3 linked regions of the Homo sapiens genome follow. The protein of the gene in region 1 purifies or fractionates together with the protein of each later gene. This does not show direct contact. Each region holds a gene or a part of one and is shown in the gene's direction. Other genes may lie near its edges.

Region 1 (3,748 bases):
GCTCCCCAACATACTCTCTACCAGCTGACAATGCAGGCAAGTCATAGGCCGAATTCCCTTACACATAGACATGTGTTGGCAAGCAGTTCCACTCCACCCCCAGCCAAATTAGGTGCTCTGAGCAAACCTTGTATGAAAAGTTTACTGAATCAGGAGCTGCACACTGGACCATTTTGAAGCAAAGCCTATAGCATCCTTCCAAAGGGTTTGGACTACTGGCATCTCTAGATTTTTTTTTTTTTTTTTTGAGACGGAGTCCCACTCTGTTGCCCAGGATGGAGTGCAGTGGCGTGATCTCGGCTCACTGCAAGCTCCACCTCCCGGGTTCATGCCATTCTCCTGCCTCAGCCTCCCAAGGAGCTGGGACTACAGGCACACACCACCACAACCAACTAATTTTTTTGTATTTTTAGTAGAGACAGGGTTTCACCGTGTAAGCCAGCATGGTCTCGATCTCCTAACCTCGTGATCCACCTGCCTCGGCCTCCCAAAGTGCTGGGATTACAGGCATGAGCCACCGCACCAGGCCATCTCTAGATTATTATAGCCTGTTCCAGCAAGAGAGGAAATGCCTTCAAAAAAATTATCTCCAATCCAGGTGGCTTGGACACCACTAATTTCACCAGTGAAAAACTATTTCTAATATCTATTATGTCCATTAGTGAAGACACTTCTGTTGATTTAAGATTGTCGACGTGCTTGTACTAGCTGTCTCTGTCTTTTTGATGAAATGCTAGCTAACCACCTCAAGTGTGTGTACTCTCAAACAGGGCACCAGACCACCCTTAGGTGTAGGTTAAAACTGTGCAGCACATACATATGGCTCTGGGGACTGCCATGTGCTGGCGATCGGCTGCAAGGAGTTCCCCTGGACGACTGCCATCAGCTGTCAGCCCTCCTTAGGGACTGTCCCAGCTGGAGACAACCATGTCACCCAAGGTCATGCCATTTCCGAGGGCAGTATGCATCCAATGAAACAATTCTAGGCCCCGGGGACAAAAATACCTGCCTTCCTGGAGCTTGGATTCTGGTGGAGACAGACAATAAACAAAGTCAACACATGAAATATAAGCCCGTAGTGCCTTGGTCAGTGATAAGTTCTAGAGAGAACGATCAAGTAGGGCAGGGGAGTGGGAGTCTTGGGGGCGGGGTGGGTACAGGGGTATGGGATTTGCGATGTCAGAGTGGACCGTGTTGATCTCTGTCTGTGGTTGGTCACTGATCAGGGTGCATTCCAGTACAGACCTGAAGAAGATGAGGGAGACAGCCTGGTGGATACCATTCATTCCATTCTGGCTCCCCCCCACGCCGACTCTGACGGTTTTACTTGCCTGAAGCAGTCCAGGCGTTTAGCTCAGGCTCCTGGGCCACATTGGCAGCCAGAGGCCAGGCGGGGCCCGAGGCCTAGCTCAGAGCGCACCCTACAGGCCCCCGGACGCGCCCCTAGCGCACCTGCGCACGTCCGGGCAGGTGGCCCGCGGAGGCGGTGGGACGTGGCAGGTGCGGCTCGCAGGTGCGCTGGCCCCGCCCCCACCTTCGCCCCCGCCCCGCCTCTCCCTCCGGGCGGGGCCCCTTTCGGTCCAACGGCAGGACCTGGGGGCTGTGGCCGGGGGCGGCCGTTGACCTGGTGACCGCGGCGCCGCCCCAGACCGGGGGCGCAGTCCCACTCGCTCCGAGCCCCGGTCCCCCAAGCCTCCCTCCCGGGTACCTGGGGCCGCGCCCGCCCTGCGCCCAGCTCCGCCCTCCGTCGGCCCAGGCCTGACAGAGCCCGGCAGCCATGAGTGCCAACCCCCGGTGGGACATCAGCAGGGCGCTGGGGGTGGCCAAGCTCTTCCACCTGGTGTGCGGGGTGCGGGAAGCCTGCGTGACCCCGTTCCTGACCCTTTACCTGAGGCAGCTGGGCTTGGCCGCGCCCTGGGTGGGCACCCTAATGGGAACCAAGCACCTAATCGCTGCCTTCTGGGCTCCCGTCTGTGCCTTCCTGGCCAAAAGCTACCGGAAAAGGAGAGCGCTTCTGATCGGCTCCCTGCTCGGCTCGGTGGGGGCCAGCCTGCTGATGGTCCTGGTCCCACCGGTAGACAAAAATCGGGTGCACTTCCCTTGTAATGGAAGCAGCGGCCTGACCAGCACAGACGCACTCCCGGGGGTCACGCTACCTGTGAACATCACCTCGGCCCAAGAGTCTGCCTCCAGCCACCCAGCCAAGAGGACTGCAGAGGTGGAAATGCCTGGCTTCAGAAACCCACCTGGTGAAAGTGACCGAGAAACTTTCCGTGATCTGCACGTCTACTTAGCGCCCTCCGTTGAAGGAGCTAGGACCACATCCCAAGCTCTCCTCCATCCTGTCACTTCGGGGCTGAAAGATCATCCCTGGGAAGTTACTTTTGAGGTGGTCAAGACAGCCCTCCCCTTGCTTCCTGGGGGGAAAGGGCCCGGGAATCCAGCCAATTTGTCAGGGACCAAGGGGAAAGCCTGGGCTTTTGACCTGTCCTTGGAGGCGTTGCGGCGGACTTTTATCCTCTCCTTGGGGTCCGTGGCGTTCTGGGAGCTGCTGACAGCGCCTCTGGAGCAGGTGGCAGATGACAGCCTTTATGAGTTCCTGGATTTTGTGGATGCCACTGACCGATACAGAAGCCTGTGGGTCTGGAGGTTGCTGGGCATGTCGGCAGGCGTGTGTGGCATCACAGCCTTGGTGGGGCAGCTGGACTGCTTCCTGATGACCAGTGGCCCCCGAGGTGTGGTCCACTTCTATGGGTACTCGGTGGTCAGCACCCTGGCCTTACTGGTGAGCATTGCCTTTCCCATTCCCATCTGTCAGCAGTGGGAGCCCAGCTACAAAAGGGTCAAAGCACTGTCCATTGTGGGGGGTGACCCCCACCTCATTCTCCTCGCCTCCACCACTGTTTTGGTAGGAGCCATCGTCAGTACTGTCCAGAACTTTCTGTTCTGGCACATGAAGGACCATGGGAGCGGCGAGCTGGTCATGGGTTTCTCGGTCGCCCTCAGCTTGCTGGGGGAAATTCTGCTTCATCCGTTCAAAGCTACATTGCTTAGGAAACTGTCCAGGACGGGCCTGGTGGGGCTGGGGCTGAGCTGCCTCGCTGGGCAGCTGCTGTACTACTCTTTCCTCTGGAGCTGGTGGTCCGTCCTCCCCATTCAGATCTTGAGTGCCATTAGCAACAGAGCTTTGTGGTGGGCTGTGGGGGCCTCAGTAGAGGACCTGGCCACTCCCCGCATGGAGAGGGCTCTGAGTGCCTTGTTCCGAGGCCACTTTTACGGGAGTGGCTGTAGCCTGGGCAGCTTTGTCGGGGGCTTCGTGGTGATGCGCTTCAGCCTGGCTGTGCTCTACCAGGCCTGCTGTGTGGCCCTGTTGCTCTGGTTGGCCTTGCTCCTGTCCATACAGCGGAGGCTGCCCCGAGAGCGGAAAATCAAGTACTCGAAGCTGCTGTCCATGGAGGTGAGTGACACCAGTGACTCTGAGCAGGGGACAGAACAGGACTGGCTTGTGAAGGCCATGAGGGAGGAACACTCAGACTGAAAGGGCTGAGAAATCCAGAGTGTGCTGATCCAGCAAGGAACGAATGGACTGAACAAAACTCAGCCTGCTGAGGACAGAAACCTGCCCTGGACTGCTGGGAGCCGGGGAAGAGAGGATGGGTCTGTGCTGAAGGCCCAACAGGATCATCTCATTGCATGATTTTCTTTACTTTTGAAGTAAAAGGAGATTTAACTTTTTGCCAATCTTTTT
Region 2 (3,748 bases), on another chromosome or scaffold:
CTAATCTCTCCAGCCTTAGGTTGGTCTTTAACTATTGTTTTCTTTCTATGTGTATATCTTGTCTCTCACTGAAATGTAAGCTCCATGAAGCACAGCCACATGTTTCCTTTTTAGCCTTATACATACAGATGTATATTCACTTTGGGATCAATAGTGTTTGTCAACTCAAATAGGATGTGTGGGATGAATGATCCCACCTTCTGTTAGATTATTCAGCTCCTAAGTCATGCAAAACCAATACCTTGTGGACCTCCTTTCTAAAGCTCCTGCAGGGTGGGGAAAGAATGCACGGATTCTCATAGGTGCATTTAGCAATTACTAGTAACCAACACTTAATGAATGCTTACTAATTGCTAGGTCCTGTACAAAATACATTACATACATAAACTTATTCAATCTTCACGACAACTATTATTGTCCCCACTGAACAGATGAAGACACATAGAGGTCACTCAGCTAGTAAGTGGCGCAGCTAGGATTTAAAACCCAGACCGACTCCAGAGTCCATACTCTCAATTATGATACTAAATTCTTTATGGATAACAGAAAGTCTCTAATTGTAATGTAGATCAATTTCCTTGCTTTCTAACCCCATGGGAAGATGGAACTAAAAGGGTGAGAAAATAATATTTATTATACTCCTACTATAAGCCTAGTATTATAAGAGGTGCATAATGGGTTAATGATATAATTCTTGCTGTAAGTCTATGAAGCAGGAAGTATTAACTCCATTTTAAAGAATTTGGCTTCTAAAGTGGTTAAACACAGTGCTCAAGTTTTAGCTTCCAGTTATTGGCAGAGTTGGAATTAGACCAGGTTTTCTAACTTTGAAGGAAAGACTTAATTTAAAGGAGACTGTATAGAAAACCCTGCCAAGGGCAAATGTGAAGGGCACGTGAAAAGGCATCTGAATTATTACTTATAATAATTCAGAAATAGTGAATGTGTGGCGCATATTGAAGAATGATGAGAGATTGTCAAAAAATCTATTCTATAAACACTCACAGAGGAATCAGCTAATTAAATAAGCGAGCTGCCTGTCTTGGGCTAGGACATAAACTCCAAAACTTCCCACGAGGCAAGGGCAAAGAGGGCGCCACCTGTCCTGGAGAACCTGGGAACCCGCTCTAGAGACTTCGGCTCAGCCCCTTTTATTTCCTCACACTCTAATTGGCTACTTTTCCCTGGGCTCCGCCTCCTCCTCGGTCTGGACCATTAAACAGGCAAGCCCTACCCCGGACCTGGATGCGGCCTCCAATCAGGTGCCAGGCCCTGGAGTCCCTCTAGAGAAGCCCCCTCTCCACCGGCGAGGCGCTTTGCTCTCGTCCGTGATTGGCCAGGCAGCAGCATGGGGTCCGCCTCCTTCTCTTCCAGATTGGTCAGCGGTCCTCAGGACCACATCCCTCTCGGCAGGTCCCCGCCGCTTTTTCCCTTCGCTGCGTGGCCTTGGCCGAGACCGGTCCTCTGCGGAGAGGGCCCCGCCCTCTGTGAAGGCCCGCCCGGGAATTGGCGGCGGCGCTGCAGCCATTTCCGGTTTCGGGGAGGTGGGTGGGGTGCGGAGCGGGACTTGGAGCAGCCGCCGCCGCTGCCACCGCCTACAGAGCCTGCCTTGCGCCTGGTGCTGCCAGGAAGATGCGGCCGGAGCCCGGAGGCTGCTGCTGCCGCCGCACGGTGCGGGCGAATGGCTGCGTGGCGAACGGGGAAGTACGGAACGGGTACGTGAGGAGCAGCGCTGCAGCCGCAGCCGCAGCCGCCGCCGGCCAGGTACGAGGGGCCCGCGCGGCGGGGCCGGGGTGGCGGTGTGGACTGGCGGAGGGGCGGCCGGGCGGGGCGAGGTCTCCGGGCCATCCGCTGGGCAATCCGCGGGGCGGGCGCCGTTCGCAGGTGTGGGCGGCAGTGTCCGGCCGCTGGCCCGACCTCCACGAGCCTGGAGGCTCAAGGACGGCTCGGGGGCTCCCCACCTCTCCGCGCCTGGAGGTCTTACTCCCGGAGCTCTGGGTTCTGCTCAGAGCTCCGGGTACTTTTCTCTGCCCCATTCTGCCAGAAGTGTGTGCTGTCCCCAGGGGAAGCGATGAGGGGCCCTTCGGACTCCAGTGGGAGCCGCCCAAGGGCTCCGGAGGGTCCCTTCTCAAACCCCTGAGGTTATTGCTTCCTTTTAAAGTCCTGCAGTCGTCCAAAGAAAACCACCCATGGGGTCCTTAAGAAGCAAAGAAAATTAGGCGGTGGTGTCAGATGGAAACACACCCAGCCTCTCCCAACCACATTCTGGACTACCACGTTCAGTCCCCAACCAGGACATTGGTCCATAGATCTGGCAGGGAATCCAAGCTGGTCCCTCGAAAGCATCATTCTCTTAACTCTGCCGGTGGTGAGACTCTACCCCAGGCTCCAGGTTGGATTAGGTGGCCCCTTCGACCCTTTCCTGAACACGAGTGCTATCACACAAGGGGATTGTTTAGCCTGGTGGTGACTTGCGATGACTCTATACTAATTAACCATGCTGAATCATCAACCAAGTTCAGGCAGTTCTAAAATATTTTGAAAAGTTCTAAATTCAAGACAATGCTTATTATCAACCTTACAGTGGTCTGGACTGACAGATATTCTGTTGAAATGTGTTTTTAAAGATGAGCTGGTTAAAAAGATGCAAGATCGGTGTTCCTGGAAGAGAGTGTTGCGATAATTTTGCAGTTGACTTTAATACGTTTAAGTCTTGTACAGATATTAAGGAACGCTTAGAAAGTACTCTGTTTCCCTTTAGCGGGAGTGTGACTGTTGCAGTTTGATAGGATGGTGATCTTAATTTGGCTTTAACATAACTACTCCCCAGATGAGTAGTTATGATGGATAGGTCTGTTACTGTTTGCTGCGAAGCAGAAAATAAAGCATTTTTCCAGGTCATGTTGAGATATTGAGACTGAGTTGAGGGGAAAAATAAGTAAAGCAGACTTGACCTCCCCTGAAGTTGTAAGGTGTCAAAGCGAAGTAATACACAGATCAAAAGATTTGTTTTCACTTTTAAAGAAATAATTGTGTGAGGGAGGAAGTGATAACAGTCAGCTCATTATAAGCAGTGGAATAGTTTGTCGTTTTCCTAGCAATGTAAACGACTTATAAGACAAAATTGTTGTGGTATAGAATGTAATAGGGAAATTTAACGGGTAGGAGTTAGAAAATACATTTGCAGGTGAATTTCATTGAGGTATGATTTTTTTTTTGTTTTTGTTTTTGTTTTTTTTTTTCAGACAGTTTTGCTCTTGTCACCCAGGCTGGAGTGCAATGGCGCGATCTCGGCTCACTGCAGCCTCCACCCCCTGGGTTCAAGCGATTCTCCTGCCCCAGCCTCCCGAGTAGCTGGGATTACAGGCGCCCGTCATCACGCCCGGCTAAATTTTGTATTTTTATTAGAGATGGGGTTTCACCATGTTGGCCAGGTTGGTCTCGAACTCCTGACCTCAGGTGATTGGCCTGCCTTGGCCTCCAAAAGTGCTGGGATTACAGGCGCACCAGGCCGAGGTATGATTTTTTTTGTTTTTTTGGTTTTTTTTGAGATGGAGTCTCGCTCTGTCGCCCAGGCTGGAGTGCAGTGGCGCGATCTCGGCTCACTGCAAGCTCTACCTCCCAGGTTCACGCCATTCTCCTGCCTCAGCCTCCCAAGTAGCTGGGCCTACAGGCACCCGCCACCACGCCCGGCTAATTTTTTGTATTTTTAGTAGATACGGGGTTTCACTGTGTTAGCCAGGATGGT
Region 3 (3,648 bases), on another chromosome or scaffold:
TGTTTATGCTTTGTGAAATTCTTGTACTTTGGTTTTCAGCTCCATCAGGTCATTTAAGCTCTTCTCTACACTGGTTATTCTAGTTAGCCATTTGTCCAACCTTTTCTCAAGGTTTTAAGTTTCCTTGCGATCGGTCAGAACGTGCTGCTTTAGCTTGGAGAAGTTTGTTATTACCAACCTTCTGAAGCCTACTTCTGTCAACTCGTTAAACTCATTGTCCATCCAGTTTTGTTCCTTTGCTGGTGAGGAGTTACGTTCCTTTGGAGGAGAAGAGGCGTTCTGTTTTTGGAATTTTCAGCCTTTCTGCTGTGGTTTCTCCCCATCTTTGTGGTTTTATCTACCTTTGGTCTTTGATTTTGGTGACGTACAGATGGGTTTTGGTGTGGGTGTCCTTTTTGTTGATATTGATCCTATTCCTTTGTTTGTTAGTTTTCCTTCTAACAGAGGCCCGTCAGCTGCAGGTCTGTTGGAGTTGCTGGAGGTCCACTCTAGACCCTGTTTACCTGGGTATCACCAGTGGAGGCTGCAGAACAGCAAATATCGCGGCCTGATCCTTCCTCTGGAAGCTTCGTCCAAGAAGGACACCCACCTATATGAGGTGTCTGTCGGCCCCTACTGGGAGGTGTCTCCTCCCAGTCAGGCTACATGGGGCTCAGGGACCCACTTGAGGAGGCAGTCTGTCCGTTACTGGAGTTCAAATGCCGAGCTGGGAGAACCACTGCTCTCTTCAGAGCTGTCAGGCAGGGATGTTTAAATCTGCAGAAGCCGTCTGCTGCCTTTTGTTTAGATATGCCCTGCCCCCAGAGATGCAATCTAGAGAGGCAGTAGGCCTTGCTGAGCTGCGGTGGGCTCCACCCAGTTCAAGCTTCCTTGCTGCTTTGTTTACACTGTGAGCATAGAAGTGCGTACTGAAGCCTCAGCAATGGCGGGGAGGCGCTTCCCCTCACCAAGCTCCAGCATCCCAGCTTGATCTCAGACTGCTTGGCTAGCAGCAAGCAAGGTTCCATGGGCATGGGACCCCCCGAGCCAGGCACTGGAGGCAATCACCTGCTCTGCCAGTTGCGAAGACTGGGAAAAGCACAGTATTTGGGCAGAGTATACTGTTCCTCCAGGTACAGTCACTCACGCCTTTCCTTGGCTAGGAAAGGGAAATCCCCTGACCCCTTGCACTTCCTGGATGAGGTGACGTCCTGCCCTGCTTTGGCTCACCCTCCATGGGCTGCACCCACTGTCCAACCAGTGCCAGTGAGATGAACCAGGTACCTCAGTTGGAAATGCAGAAATCACCCATCTTCTGCATCGATCTTGCTGGGAGCTGTAGACCAGAGCTGTTCCTACTGGGACATCTTGGAAGCAACTCTGGGTCTGAGTTTCTGTTTGTTGCCCTGATGTATATCCCCAGTGCCTAGAATGATACTTGTTACATAGGAAGTGCTTGATCCATGTTTGCACAAATGAATCTTTCTCATAATGAGGTTTCTCTAAACAAGCTGTTCTCCCAAAAACTTAAACCCAGCTTTATGTTGAAGCATCTCATTATACATTGGAAAGATGAAATGTGTAGTGAGACTTTGAATCTTCTTTTGAATCTAGAAACATTAGCATTTTTAGACCATTCTATTTTAATATTTATGAAATTTATGAAATAATAAGAAACATGAGGCCGGGCTCAGTGGCTTATGCCTGTAATCCCAGCAGTTTGGGAGGCCAGGGCTAGTGGATCATGAGGTCAGGAATTTGAGACCAGCTTGGCCAACATGGTGAAACCCCACTTCTACTAAAAATATAAAAATTAGCTGGGCGTGGTGGTGCATGCCTGTAATGCCAGCTCCTGGAGAGGCTGAGGCAGGAGAATCATTTGAACCTGGGAGGCGGAGTTTGCAGTGAGCTGAGATCGTGCCATTGCACTCCAGCCTGGGCAACATTGCGAGACTCCATCTCAAAAACAAAAACAAAAACAAAAAAAATGTGTGACCTAAATTAGGCTTATAGATGAACCATTGCAGTCATGATTAATTCCGCCATTGTTTGCCTTGTGATCTTTGGTGCCATGTCTGTACATATTTCATGATTTCTGTGTTTTTACGGTTTCCATTTCAGATCTCCCTTGAGTTTAGAAATCTGGCTGAGAAATACCAAACAGTGATTGCCGACATTTGCCGGAGAATGGGCATTGGGATGGCAGAGTTTTTGGATAAGCATGTGACCTCTGAACAGGAGTGGGACAAGGTTAGTCTCATAAAACAGTGTCTGTGTGTGATGTATTAGACAGAGCTGGCAGTCCTCATAGTGAAGCTCAGAACAAGAAAAGTTGTCCAGTATTTTCAGCCCCTCTGGTTTTACAATTCATCTGTTTAGGTTGAATGTCTCATCATAAACAGTTTATTCCAGAGTTAATTCCAAACCAGCAGCTATGTAGGATATCAGCCAGGCTAGGAGTAGGGTACTGGAGAGAAGTGCTTATCTAGACAAAGGGATGTAATTGACCATGAAGATTAAAACTACACATCAAAACATAAGGTAGGGTTAGGAGTCTTGCCTATTTTTCATAGGAATGGTGTTTGTGAGACTTACTCATCACTTCTGTGGAAGTAAAGACATTTTATTTATTTATTTTAAAGCCAGTCAGATTTAGCAGGCAGAGACATTTCAGACATCTAAAGTGTTGATGTATTTCATACCTTTAACTGTGCTTAAATTAGGATCTCCGAAAAGATGCTGCTACATGGTCACTACGTTAGTGTAGGTCCAAGGTCTTGGGCCTCTTAATTTTTCAAACCTCAAAACTTGACAGCAGTTATCTTTGGAACTGCTGATTTGTGCTTCCTAAGTTAACAGCATACAATGACTGCTAGAAATCAATTTCTGCATTTAAGGTGAAGTTAGCCGGGTACTATGGTTTACCTGTAATCTCAGCACTTTGGGAGGCTGAGGTGGGAGGATCATTTGAGCCCAGGAGTTAGACACAAGCCTAAGCAACATAGCGAGACCCCGTCTTTCAAAAAATTAAAAAATGAGCAGGGAATTGGTGGCATGTGCCTGTGGTCCCAGCTACTCTGGAGGCTGAGGTGTGGGAGGATTGCTTGAGCCCAAGAGTTGAAGGTTGCAGTGAGCCATGATTGTGCCACTGCACTCCAACGTGGGTGACAGAGCAAGACACCATCTGAAAGAAAATAAAGTTGAAGTTAAAACTTCTGGCCAAGAACCAGCACTGGTTATGATAGTAACTCATTTTCTGTTGTGCAGATTTATTCAGGAAACTTAATTTTAGGTTGTTGAATAGAAGTTTTGATCAGATAAAATTGAATTAAAAAAAATTTTTTTTGAGACAGGGTCTTGCTGTTATCCAGGCTGGTGTGTAGTGGTGTGATCACGGCTCCCCGCAGCCTCAACCTCCTGGGCTCAGGTGATCCTCCCACCTCAGCCTACCGAGTAGCTGTAACTACAGTGCATGACACCATACCAGGCTCATTTTTGTACATTTTTTGTAGAGAGAGGGTTTTGCCATGTTGCCCAGGCTAGTCTCAAACTCCTGGCATCAAACAGTCCTCCCACTCTGGCCTCTCAAATGTTGGGATTACAGGCATGACCAGCCAATTATTTCAAGGAGTTATTTTTTTTCTTCTACTTTGGGGGAAGATGAATTAT

The links.
Region 2: the proteins of MFSD6L (region 1) and SPTLC2 purify together in Homo sapiens (affinity purification with mass spectrometry; one large-scale study listed by BioGRID and IntAct). This does not show direct contact.
Region 3: the proteins of MFSD6L (region 1) and FDFT1 purify together in Homo sapiens (affinity purification with mass spectrometry; one large-scale study listed by BioGRID and IntAct). This does not show direct contact.

Annotation. Positions count from the first base shown.
Region 1 is NC_000017.11:8,797,150-8,800,897, reverse strand, and holds the start of MFSD6L (major facilitator superfamily domain-containing protein 6-like), read left to right. Parts: upstream 1-1,532; 5' UTR 1,533-1,777; coding exon 1,778-3,538; 3' UTR 3,539-3,748.
Region 2 is NC_000014.9:77,614,464-77,618,211, reverse strand, and holds the start of SPTLC2 (serine palmitoyltransferase 2), read left to right. Parts: upstream 1-1,574; 5' UTR 1,575-1,632; coding exon 1,633-1,764; intron 1,765-3,748. UniProt on the Homo sapiens protein: Component of the serine palmitoyltransferase multisubunit enzyme (SPT) that catalyzes the initial and rate-limiting step in sphingolipid biosynthesis by condensing L-serine and activated acyl-CoA (most commonly palmitoyl-CoA) to form long-chain bases.
Region 3 is NC_000008.11:11,819,650-11,823,297, forward strand, and holds part of FDFT1 (squalene synthase), read left to right. Parts: intron 1-2,100; coding exon 2,101-2,229; intron 2,230-3,648. UniProt on the Homo sapiens protein: Catalyzes the condensation of 2 farnesyl pyrophosphate (FPP) moieties to form squalene. Proceeds in two distinct steps.